Linked DNA regions of Homo sapiens: all the other regions are reported to be linked to region 3. The links are microRNA targets in miRTarBase. Many come from high-throughput screens and were not tested one by one. Region 3 holds a microRNA gene; each other region holds the end of a gene's coding sequence.
Evidence for each region. The annotated mature microRNA hsa-miR-4325 reads UUGCACUUGUCUCAGUGA and lies in region 3 at 3,067-3,084, shown strand. An mRNA with a match to its seed (bases 2 to 7 or 8) in the 3' UTR can be bound and repressed. Matches are read on the target gene's strand: a 7mer-m8 pairs with bases 2 to 8, a 7mer-A1 pairs with bases 2 to 7 and ends in A, and an 8mer does both.

Region 1: miRTarBase lists GTF2H1 as a target of hsa-miR-4325. Seed matches in the 3' UTR shown: 7mer-A1 at 1,032-1,038 and 8mer at 1,259-1,266.
Region 2: the mRNA of DBF4 is a reported target of hsa-miR-4325. Seed matches in the 3' UTR shown: 8mer at 889-896 and 7mer-m8 at 1,443-1,449.

The regions. Positions count from the first base shown.
Region 1 is chr11:18,365,631-18,369,837 of GRCh38, forward strand. GTF2H1 (general transcription factor IIH subunit 1) reads left to right here. Exons shown (of 15, transcript NM_005316.4): 15 at 153-1,415. The coding sequence ends at 239. Among named protein-coding and RNA genes, the nearest start is that of MIR3159, 20 kb to the right of the region's middle.
Region 2 is chr7:87,907,562-87,911,805 of GRCh38, forward strand. It overlaps DBF4 (DBF4-CDC7 kinase regulatory subunit), which reads left to right. Exons shown (of 12, transcript NM_006716.4): 12 at 1-1,992. The coding sequence ends at 602. Among named protein-coding and RNA genes, the nearest start is that of ADAM22, 25 kb to the right of the region's middle.
Region 3 is chr20:57,320,404-57,324,647 of GRCh38, reverse strand. MIR4325 (microRNA 4325) reads left to right here and starts at 3,057; the gene lies at 3,057-3,146. The region is part of intron 2 of LOC105372687 (a long non-coding RNA gene); the gene reads left to right.

The sequences.
Region 1 (4,207 bases), not on the chromosome of region 3:
ACCTTCTCAGAGGGCTTGCACATTACCTCATTGACTGGGGAAATACAGAGGAGCTCCGAAACTACACTCTGAAGTGTGTGCCAGATTTGGGTTGGAAGGATTAACTTCCCCTGCTTTTGCCCAGTTGTTAAGTGTCTTGCTGTGTTTTTCAGTTGGTAAGTCACATAGAAGAGATGCTCCAGACAGCCTACAACAAGCTCCACACATGGCAGTCACGGCGTCTGATGAAGAAAACGTGAGGTGGCCATGATGCTTACAGGTTTTGTGAGATTGAGAGAACTATGACCTGCAGCAACTCTGGAAACCTGGCCTGACAGACAAGCAGATGACCTCACAGGAGTGATAAGAAACATCTGCTCCACGCCAACTCCCAGAGCTGATGCTATTGTACTTGCACATTGGAGACTGAAAGGAAAGAAGGGACTAAATGCTGGGGAGGTAAATTAAGACAGAACCAAATGAGCTAAGTTGCAAATATATATATATACACACACACACATATATGTACATGTGTATGTACATATATATTTTAAAAGACTGTTTACTGCAGTTGCTCAGGAACTGCTTTTGATTCACATTAAGCTGCTTTCAGAAATTAAAAAAACACTTTTTAAAGGGTGCATTGATAAAATCTGAGGTTTTTTGGTTGTCGTTTTTTTCTGTGTACATTTTTTTCCTAAGTTTATGGCACAGGGTAGACCTTAAGTATTCCTCCTCCATCCTTCATTCTTCACCCTCCATTGGATCCTCAAGTTTTAATGAATTCCAATTATACCTTACATCAGCAAGTTAAAAAAAGTACTTTAAAATAAAGCAAAGGGAGACTGTTGCTCAACCATCAGGAAACAGTTGTCAGAAGACATCATTGGTTCTGTGTTTCCTACGGAAATAAGAAACGATAAATATTGCACTGAATGTTTGTGGTTTGGAGTCCCTGAATAATAAAGAGGGAATATATTTGCAGAAAGTCGCATAGGGTTTTTTAATGCAGAATTTTGTCAGAAGACAATGGCGCTGCATGTTTTTCTTTGAGTGCAAATGTACATTGCTAAGATTTTTTTAAGATGGCATGTGCTTTGAAAAGAAGATATTGCATTTTTAAGAGTTTAAAAATCTTATGAGTGAGAAATATTAAAAAAATCTTATTTTCACCTCTTTAGAAGAAATAAAAGATGTTTCTCCTATCTCCTTTTCTCTAGTATTTGACTGTTACTGTCCTTGGCGAATCGATAATCATTGCATAGTGACTGAAAAGCCTAAGTGCAAAAAAAAAAAAAAAAGATGTTCTTGTTTCTGAACTTCGTGCCATATTTTGTTCCTGATGGGATCAACTTAATGTTTAAGACTTTAGATGTCTTGTATTAAAAATTACACAAAAAAAGTAAAACTTTTTATACTTACCCTTTTAACTCTAACACATCTCTGGTTTCTCATTATGTGTGAATTTCCTTGGGTGGGCTGCCTGAGAACTGTTCATTTTATTTTAGGCCATGTTACAAACTGGTTATCCTTCATATAATGACTGCTAAGGTCAGAATCTAAGCCAGGCATGGTAGCACATGCCTGTAGTTCCAGCTACTTGGGAGGCTGAGGTAGGAGGATCACTTGAGCCCAGAAGTTCAAAAGTCCAGACTGAGCAACATAGTGAGACTCCATCTCTTTTTTTACAGAAAAAAAAAGAAAAATTTATGAAGACCTTGAACTGGTAAAGGGAAAGAAGCCACATCATTTTCTGCCTTCAGTCTTCCCATTTCTCTTTCAGATCAGTATATGTACTGGTATAATCCCTTAAAATTTACACTTTCACAAAGTACTTTCAAATGTGTTACTGCTACAGTGGGGCAAATAGAAAAATGATTGAAATAAAAAAAAGTGGCTATTGGGCAAGGCAGACATAAGAAATAGAATGTTCTGTTGAGTGCTGTGTTGAAAATTAAGTTGTAAGCTGGGCATGGTGAGTCATACCTGTAATCCAGCACTTTGGGAGGCCAAGGCAAGAGGATCACTTGAGCTCAGGAATTCAAGACCAGCCTGGGCAACATAGCAAAACCTCATCTCTACTAAAAGTAAAAAAAGTTAGCTGGGCGTGGTGGTATGTGCTTGTAGTTCCAGCTGCTCTGGAGGCCGAGGCGGGAGGATTGCATGAGCCCAGGAGATTGAGGCTGCAATGAGCTATGATCACACCACTGCACTACAGCCTGGACAGTAAGACAAAGCCCTGTCTCAAAAAAAAAAAAAAAAAAAAAAAAAATATATATATATATATATATATATATATATAAAGCCTGAAGGAAAGACTTCATTTAAAAGAGCGTTTTAGCTAAGTCTTGAAGGTTGAGTAGGATTTTGTGAGGTAGAGAAGAAAGTCATCTCTTCTAGACTGAGGGAAGAGCATGATGATGAGAAGGTTTGAAAGACTGAAATATGTTAGAAGAACAGGAAAGATGTGTTAGATTGGAGAGTTGGAAGTGACAAGTAAGGCTCAGAAAACCATGTTAATTCAGGTTGTGAATGGCCTTGTATGCTAAAGTAAAATACTCAGACCTTACCTACTAGGCATGGGAGACTTGAGAGAAAGTTTTAAGCAAGTTGCTTTTATGGGGGGGTTTTCTGGTGGTGGGGGGTTAGGCAGGGGTTAAATAACTTGGCAATTAGGACAGATTTAGAAGACTTTCTGAACAAACCACACAGGAAAGCGTCTACATTAAAATGAAGTCCTGGTAAATAGGAAGGGCCTGAGTAACAGCATTTCTACAGTGTATGTGACTAACTCACAGGGAGTGAAGGAATCAAGGGTGATTCACAGAGATAGCTGTGAATTTCATGTCTAGCTTGCACTTGAAATATTTGAGCCTTGGATACCTTTAGCAATGAACTTCAGCAGCTGTATAGGCCTTTTATGGCCCTTCACCTTCTTGCGGAAAATAATAGCACCACTGATGGTTGAGGGCTGCTGTAAACCAGCATTGTGCCAAACACTTTTTCTGCTGTATCTCCCTTCCCACAACTGAAGAAGCAAGTAGATACTACAAGATTTTGTACAGATTAGAAATGGTTTAGAGGTTAAGTAATTTACCCAAATTCACACAGCTAGTAAGTGTCAGAGCTAGGATTTACCCTAAGGCTTCTCTAGTCTGGAGAAGGGATGAGATGTCTGTGAAGTTGCAAGTTGTTATTCCGCAGCCCAGGCTTCCATTGCCTAGTTTTTCCTTTGACTCCTTTGTCATTCCTGCCTGACTCTATTCTGTGCTTTACTTGTGGCAAATCGCATCATGGGATTAGTCTGCCTAGTAGGCCCTGAGGGCTATAAAATGTAATAATGTAACAACAGCATGTCCTGCCTTAGGAGAATGAGTCTTTTCTGGAAAGAAAGTCAGTAGTGGCCTAGCGCAGTGGCTCACACCTGTAATCCCAGCACTTTGGGAGGCCGAGGCGGGTGGATCACCTGAGGTCAGGAATTCGAGACCAGCCTACCCAACATGGCGAAACCCCATCTCTACTAAAAATACAAAAAATTAGTCAGGCGTGGTGGCAGGCACCTGTAATCCCAACTACTCAAGAGGCTGAGGCAGGAGAATCGCTTGAACCTGGGAAGTGGAGGCTGTGTCGAGCCGAGATCAAGCCACTCTGCTCCAGCCTGGGCAACAAGAGCGAAACTCCATCTCAAAAAAAAAGTCAGTAGTGTTAGTCTGCTTTAGACATACTACAAAGTGGGTGAGGTACCTTGTAAAATCCACTTCAGGATGGAAAACAAAAGAATGTTTTAACATCTGTAACTAGAAAGGTAACCCCACTCATCGAGTCTGAAGAGTTTAATCCAGAAAGTGATTTCCTGTTGCATATACCATCTTTCTAGAGCTGACAGTGTCTGGAATGGAAAGCTGTGTGTTTCAAACTTAGGTTTGCTGTCTCCAGTGTCAAGACTTGCATGGGATTCCTTAGGATTACCTCTGCCCTTTCCCAATTTAGCTCCCTCAAGACTCAGCTGTTCTCCCAGTTCTTGAGGCCAGGGGAGTCTTAGTTATTTTCAGCTATTAAAATGTCCAGAACTGGAGTATTGCCTGGAACCTGGTTCAGGAGTGACCAGCCTGAGTTAGTAGTCCATCTCCTTGTTTGGGTGTATATTAAAGTCACAGAAGAGACTGGAAATCTTGTCATCTCGTGGCCACTACTGACTTTCTTTCCATCCTGGGTGGAGTTACATATG
Region 2 (4,244 bases), not on the chromosome of region 3:
AAGAACTAAGGGTAGATCACTATAAATGTAACATACAGGCATCTGTACATGTTTCTGATTTCAGTACAGATAATAGTGGATCTCAACCAAAACAGAAGTCAGATACTGTGCTTTTTCCAGCAAAGGATCTCAAGGAAAAGGACCTTCATTCAATATTTACTCATGATTCTGGTCTGATAACAATAAACAGTTCACAAGAGCACCTAACTGTTCAGGCAAAGGCTCCATTCCATACTCCTCCTGAGGAACCCAATGAATGTGACTTCAAGAATATGGATAGTTTACCTTCTGGTAAAATACATCGAAAAGTGAAAATAATATTAGGACGAAATAGAAAAGAAAATCTGGAACCAAATGCTGAATTTGATAAAAGAACTGAATTTATTACACAAGAAGAAAACAGAATTTGTAGTTCACCGGTACAGTCTTTACTAGACTTGTTTCAGACTAGTGAAGAGAAATCAGAATTTTTGGGTTTCACAAGCTACACAGAAAAGAGTGGTATATGCAATGTTTTAGATATTTGGGAAGAGGAAAATTCAGATAATCTGTTAACAGCGTTTTTCTCGTCCCCTTCAACTTCTACATTTACTGGCTTTTAGAATTTAAAAAATGCATACTTTTCAGAAGTGATAAGGATCATATTCTTGAAATTTTTATAAATATGTATGGAAATTCTTAGGATTTTTTTACCAGCTTTGTTTACAGACCCAAATGTAAATATTAAAAATAAATATTTGCAATTTTCTACAGAATTGAATACCTGTTAAAGAAAAATTACAGAATAAACTTGTGACTGGTCTTGTTTTACATTATATATATGTTCGTAATTGTTTCCTGAGAATTACAATGAATAATAATTTGCTTTGTCACTGAAAACCACCAGTGAAGTGCAATTTGGGGAATATCAAACTTAGCATTATACATTTGGATATTCTAGTTGTATTGTAAATTTTAAAAGATTATCAGGATAACATGACCTTGCCTTGAAAAACCTAAATTTCATACAGAAAGGAAAAATACATTTCTATGCTTGAATTCTGGAAATCATCAGAAATATTGACACTTGAGGGTCACTGGTGGACCATGCTAGTATTTTGGTGCTGAGTAATTAGATTATGTATAGGGGTAACTGGAAGCCATGAAGGAAGGACTTAACCAGGCTACCAAGTGGAATATAATTTATCTGCTATTTTTAATTACTTACCTTGTAAATAACTTTAATAATATTCAAAAGTTGACTCTCCTGTGGCTCATGCCACAGGATCCCAGCACTTTGGGAGGCCGAGGCAGGCTGATCACGAGGTCAGAAGATCAAGACCATCCTGGCCAACATGGTGAAACCTTGTCTACTAAAAATACAAAAAATTAGCTGGGCATGGCGGCATGCGCCTGTAGTCCCAGCTACTCCCTCCAGAGGCTGAGAATTGCTTGAACCTGGGAAGTGCAGGTTGCAGTGAGCCAAGATTGTGCCACTGTATTCCAGACTGGGTGACAGAGTGAGACTCCATCTCAAAAAAAAAAAAGTTGACTCTACCCCCTAATTTGGTAGGAGATGAAGGAGAAAAGGATGGCATTGAATTATAGATACAGTTTTGGGATATATACAAGGATTGCCTTGATCTGGCACTTACTGATACAAGCATTTGGAGAAGAGAAAATTCAAATATAAGAAATTTCAATTTGAATCTGTGGATATAAGGCATTTGCCTTTGAGTATGTTCTTGTAGGAGTAAGACTACCACCAGTGACATTCAATTGGTTCTATTGCATAGTACATGAATCTATTGTCACTAAAAATTAGGTTACTAATCTTAATTTTTTTGAAATATATGATTCTCAGTACAGGACTAATTCATATGCTTTTCCTGCATACATTATTTTGATCATTTGGATAACATCAATGAACACTGGCTTTTTAACACCTTTGTTTTTCATACCAGTACCTGAAGTAGGCTCAATAAAAGAGTCTTTACAGTGCATACACGCAAACCCTGTTTCCATTGTAAATTATTGTTCCATTTTCTATCACAAATACATGTATGTATGTGTAAACATACGTAAGGTTTCGTAGACAACCTTTGAAAAATCTAAATGGAACTTGGAAAATTATTTGCAGGTTTATTTCCCTTTAGTTATCAGTGTTCCCCAAATTTTCCAAATAACTGAAAGGTATGTAAAGTCACTGTATGATCCTTTGACTTTAAGAGTAACAGTGTCTGGCTGGGCGCGGTGGCTCACGCCTGTAATCCCAGCACTTTGAGAGGCCAAGGCGGGCGGATCACGAGGTCAGGAGATCGAGACCATCCTGGCCAACATGATGAAACCCTGTCTCTACTAAACTACAAAAAATTCGCTGGGCATGGTGGTGCGCTCCTGTAATCCCAGCTACTTGGGAGGCTGAGGCAGGAGAATCGCTTGAACCCCGGAGGCAGAAATTGCAGCGAGCCGAGATTGTGCCATTGCACTCCAGCCTGGTGACAGAGCGAGACTCCGTCTCAAAAAAAAAAAAAAAAAAAGTGTCTTCAATTTACAGTGGTACTCTGGGCATCATTTTACATTAAGTTATACTTACTAAGGAGAAAAAGTCTGAACCCTTCAGTAAAAGTTGTTAAACTATTTGACACTGGATATTGGACTTTTGGAACACCACATGGTCTTCATAATGAGTATTCAGCTTTTTTCAAGTGCTTAAATTTCAGTTTACTTGGAATAATTTCAGTTTACTTGGGCCACCACATACAGTTTGGATTGTGCTGTGCAGCTATGCAGATGGGCACCCAGCCAGTGAGATGAAGGCAGGTTATTTGCAGCAAGTAGTGTGTCCTGGCAATGAGGTGCATCTACCTAGAGGTAGGGGTAGTTTTTCCTATTTTTTACCAAGGCACAGCCAAGGTAGTGTTTACCCAGAAGGTTCTTTGCCTTTTTGTTTTTGTTTGTTGTGTGTGTGGTTTTTCTTTTTTTTTCTTTTTTTTTTTTTTTATTGTTTTTGTTGTTGTTGTTTTGATACTAGGTCTCTCTTGTCCAGGCCTGGTTACCATGGTGCAGTCAGCTCACTGTGGCCTCAGACTCCTGGGCTTAGCTGGGCACTGGCTCATACCTGTAATCCCAGTACTTTGGGAAGCTGAGATAGGAGGATCACTTGTGATCAGGAGTTCAAGGTCAGCCTGGGCAGCATAGCTAAACTTCGTTTTTACAAAAATATATATACACATACATATACATATATATATATGTCTATATAATATATATGTATAATATATATATTTGTCTATACATATATAGACAAAAGTCTATAAAAAGTCATACCACGAGGCCCTCATGGTATGACTTTTGGGTTCCCACAGGAGGCAGACTGAGATGGAATTTGGTATGCAGATGTTTTCTAAGGGGTGCCTTTGGACACCAGTTGACCCCACAGGCAGCTTTTCAAGAGTTGCTAGGTGAAGATGACCAATAAGTCATTTGAGTATGGGTCACTCTAGGAAGGAGCATGACTGTGGGCAACGAGGCTCCTCAGCTGACACAATCCCTGAAGGAGCTGACAGTAGAAGTTGAAAGCTGTTTACTGTCAGTACTCCCAGAAGCTGGGGCAACAAGTTACTGAAGAGGGATCAGGATCAATTACCCCACATAGTGATTCTGCCTGTTGGGTTATTGGCACAAGGAACTCAAAACGGCCGGGTGGTGGTCGCAGCTTATAATTCAACAGGAGTCGCTGAGGTAGGAAACACATTCAAGAGGGTCAAATAAGTGACGGCAAGCAGGTCTACTCCTGTTCCACTCATGGGTTGCCAGACTTATTTTGTCGGGGGCATAGCACCATAAAAACATCTTGAACTCCAACTGTATACTGCATCTTAAATGACAGCCTATTCTCAAGAATATCACCTCCATGCTGATGCTAATTAACAGGCCCTTCCAATACTCTATCAGGAAGCTTCTGGTTGATTCAATATATAATAAGGCTTGTGGATTGCATGATCATGGGCCTACCCCCATGCCTCCTTTGCTGTAAAGGACATCCCCTGGTCTGATACGAAGTTATATATGATGCCACGCCAGTGAAACTCTAAGTCTTAAAAATGCAATGTGAACGACAACAACAACAAAAAGACCTGGCATGTCTATTACTGTGTCCAGTATAATCGACTAGCCACTTCATGCCTAGTTTCTGGCAGTTTGGGCATCTGGCAGTGACAAAAACACTAGCTCGGCTTTGGCGAATAGGAACCTATGCTATG
Region 3 (4,244 bases):
TAATTCCATTATCATACTAAAAGGTATGTTAACAATCATTCTTTATATCACCAAGTATTCTATCTGTTGAAATTGCCCCAATTGTTTCAGCAATTGTTTTCTTCTCATTTAAAAAAGTTATCTATTTTAATTGACAAATAAAAATTGTGTATATCTATCCTATACAACATGTTGTTTTGAAATCTGTATCCATATTTAGCTTGATTAGCTAAATCATGCTAATGAACATACACCTTAGCTCACATACTTATCATTTTTTTGTGGTGAGAACACACACAGGTAGTCCTAAAATGTACTCTCAGCGATTTTCAAGAATACAATAGCTTGTCATGAACTACCTAGGCACCATGTTGTACAGTAGATCTCTTGACCTTATTCAGCCTGTCTAACTGGAATTTTATATCTTTTGACCCCTATCTCCCCAGTCCCCTAGCCCCCACTCTGTTGCTTACCATGCTACTCCCACTTCTATGAGTTTGGCTTTTTTAGATTTCACATATAAGCGAGACCATGCGGCATTTGTTATGTTTGTTTAGTTTGTTTTCATCAAGATGCGAATAAGGTCCATCCACACATGGCTGTTGGTTGATATGACTCTTAAGTCTCCTAAATTCTATAGGTTCTTCTCCAGTTTTCTTTCCTTGCAATTTACTTGTTGAAGAAACTGAGTCATTAGTCCCAGAGAGTTTTGTGCAATTAGGAGTTTGGGGATTGCATCCCTGTGATATAATTTACTATGTTTTTCTGTTTCAGGTATTTCTTATAAATTGAGAGTTGAATTTGGAGGCTTAACTGTTTCTGGTTTGATTTTTTTTTCATAAAAATATTTCGTAGGTGGTTTGAAATATTTATTTTTTATTTTTAGGCAGAGTCCTGCTCTGTCGCCCAGGCTGGAGTGCAGTGGTGTGATCTCCAGCTCACTGCAACCTCCGCCTCCCGGGCTCAAGTGATTCTCCTGCCTCAGCTTCCTGAGTAGCTGAGATTACAGGTACCCACCACCATGCCCAGCTAATTTTTGTATTTTTAGTAGAGATGGGGTTTCGCCATGTTGGCCAGGCTGGTCTTGAACTCCTGACCTCAGGTGATCCGCCCACCTTGGCCTCCCAAAGTGCTAGGATTACAGGCATGAGCCACCGTGCCCGGCCTAGGTTTAAAATATTTAGAACCTCCATTGTAACCTTCCAGAACTCCTCTGGCTGGGGCTTCCAGGTTGAGAACTTCAGAGCTAGCCTCAATCTCAGCCTCTCATTCACTGAAGTAGCAGCCAAGCCCGGGAGGATAAGTCATGCTGAGCAAAATCTCTGCAGCCTGCAAAATCCCTTCACAGACTACAGACCCAGATGGAGAAAGCTGAGGAGGGCTTTAGAAAAAGCAGCTTCCCTCTGCTGCACTGAGTCGCCCTGGGGATTTGCAGGGGAGGTTCCCCGACCTGGTTCGCTTTCTGCTTGTTAGCACGCAGGGTGGCTTTGTGCCACAGCCCAGCCTGACTCATCCTCTCTGCTCTTTATTTCTTTCCTCCTCACACCCTCGCTGAGCTGCTAATTGCTCTCCTCCACCCTCCCCCTTGGTTGGAATCCTGAGGCCCTGACCTAGAGACACCCCATCACAAGTGTTTTCCAGCTAGCTCCAAAACCTCATCTCTGCTTTATTTGAAAATCAGTCAACATTAAACAGAGACTTGCTCTGATTTAAGGAGACTTTTAAAACTGAAGTAATTTTCCTTCTCTCCCTTCGCTTCTTCGTTTTCTTTTTTATTGTTTGTTTTCCATTTTTTAAGACTTCTTGGCAACTGGTTTTGGGAGAAAGAGGCACTTTTGCAAAGGACCAGAAGGCATGTCCAGTGTTCAAACCCAAGGCGATGAAACCCCAAAAGGTGTTTTCCTTTCCACATCTCTGTCTCTTCCACTCCTAGGCACACACCAGAAGGGCTGCCCAATTTACACATTGGCAGGCTTATGATTCATCCAACAAATGGTTTAAGCACCTTCATGGTTCCCAGGGCCCTTCTTAGTACTGGAGATTCAACCAAGCTTGGCATCACCAAGTTCCTGCACACACATTGCTGGGGAAGGCAGATTAAAAAAAAAAAAAGTCCAGGAACAGTGGCTCATGCCTGTAATCCCATCGTTTTGGGAGGCTGAGGCAGGAAGATCACTTGAGCCCAGGAGTTTGAGACCAGGCTGGGCAACACATTGAGACCCCATCTCTGCAAAACATTTTTTTAAAAAATTAGCTGGACATTGTGGCTCATGCCAGTAGTCCTAGCTACTTGGGAGGCTGAGGCAGGAGGATCACTGGAGCCCGGGAGGTTGAGGCTGCAGTGAGCTATGATCAAGTCACTGCATTCCAGCTTGGGTGACAGAAGGAGACCCCATGTCTAAAGAAAAACAAAGAAGGAAAAAAAATACACAATTTAAGTTCAATCACAGTGTGTTAGAGGGAAAAACAATCTGTGTGGTAGGAAAGTGGGTGACTGGGCAGGAAAGTGCAATGAAGGTGGGAGAGAGGAGGGCAGAAGAAACCTGTCTCAGGTGAGGGCCTTGGAGCTAAAGCCTTAGCTATGAAGAAGATCTGAGGGGACGAGCTCCAGGCAGAGGGAGCGAGGAGCTATGCAAAGGCCCTGCGGAGAGATTCACTGGGAGAACTTAAAGGGCAGAGAGCAGGCCAACGTTGATGGAGAGATGAGCGGGGACGTCTATCGGCCACAGTGAGGAAACAGGACTCTGTTCTAAGGCAGTGATTCCAGTGGGGGCGATTTTGCCCCTCAAAGGACATTTGGCAATGTTGGGAGACATTTTTGGTTGCCACCCATTTGGGGGCAGTTGCTCCTGGCATCTAGTGGGAAGGGGCCAGGGATGCTGCCTATGTCCTGCAAAGCACAGGACAGCCCCTACCACAGAGAACTCATCAGTCCCAGATATTGATAGTGCTGAGGTTGAGAAACGCTGGTCTAAGAGTGGTGGGAGGCCATCAGAGGGTCTGAAGCAAGGGAAGGATGTCGTGTGTGTTAAAAAAGGAGAGTGCAGTGTGGGGAGGGAGAGTGGAGGTAAGGAGATGGGGAAGATGTTGCACTTGTCTCAGTGAGAGATGCTTCTAGATCCAGGAGGCAGACCTCAAGGATGGAGAGAAGGCAGATCCTTTGAGATTGTTCCTATTCAAGTAAGCTATGGTCAAACCTGTTTTGGAAATGTTGTACACTGTACCAAGATAAGCAGTCTAGCGTGAATCCCAGAGCAAGGCTATTTAAGTTCAGATCTTGGCTTTGCCTCTTGTTAGCTGTGTGATCTTGGGCAGGATTCTCAACCTCTCTGTGCCCCAGTTTTTCCATTTCTAAAGTGGAATAATAGGGTCCATCTCAGAGGGCTAATGTGAGGAGTAAATTAGTTAATATACATATAAATAAGCTAATAGATGACTAGAACACTGCGAATACTCAATAAGCATTATCTGGTATTAGTACATACTCCTTTTGGGAGTATCACTAGTTATATCCACAAATTAAAGTCTCTGAGAAGACCTGTATCAAAACTGTTGCTGGACTTGCTTAGCCTGCATTCACTAAACTTATATTTTCATGACACGTCCCCCACCCCCACCAACTCCCTGAACACTCTGAAAACCAGGGATCCTCAGAAAACATTTATTTATTTATTTATTGAGATGGAGTGTTGCTCTGTCCCCCAGGCTGGAGTGCAGTGGCGTGATCTCGTCTCACTGTAACCTCCATCTCCGGGGTTCAAGCAATACTCGTACCTGAGCCTCCCGAGTAGCTGGGAATCCAGACGTGCACCACCACACCTGGCTAATTTTTGTATTTTTAGTAGAGACAGGGTTTCACCATGTTGGCCAGGCTGGTCTTGAACTTCTGGCCTCAGGTGATCCACCCAGCTCACCCTCCCAAAGTGCTGGGATTACAGGCATGAGCCACTGCACCCAGCCCCTCAGAAAACATTTTAAAATCATCTTTATTGAGATCTAATTCACGCATCATAAAATTCATTCTTTTAAAGTATACAATTCAATGGGTTTTGGTGTATTGAAAAAGTTGTGCAATCATCCTCACAATCTAATTTTGGAACATTTTGTCTCCCCCAAAAGAAACTCTGTACTTATTAGTAGTCTCACCTCATTCTCCCTTCCCCCAGCCCTTGGAAGCCACTCATCTACTTTCTGTCTATGAATATGTCTGTTCCGGACATTTCACATAAATGGAGTCATACAGTATGTGGCCTTTTGTGATTGAC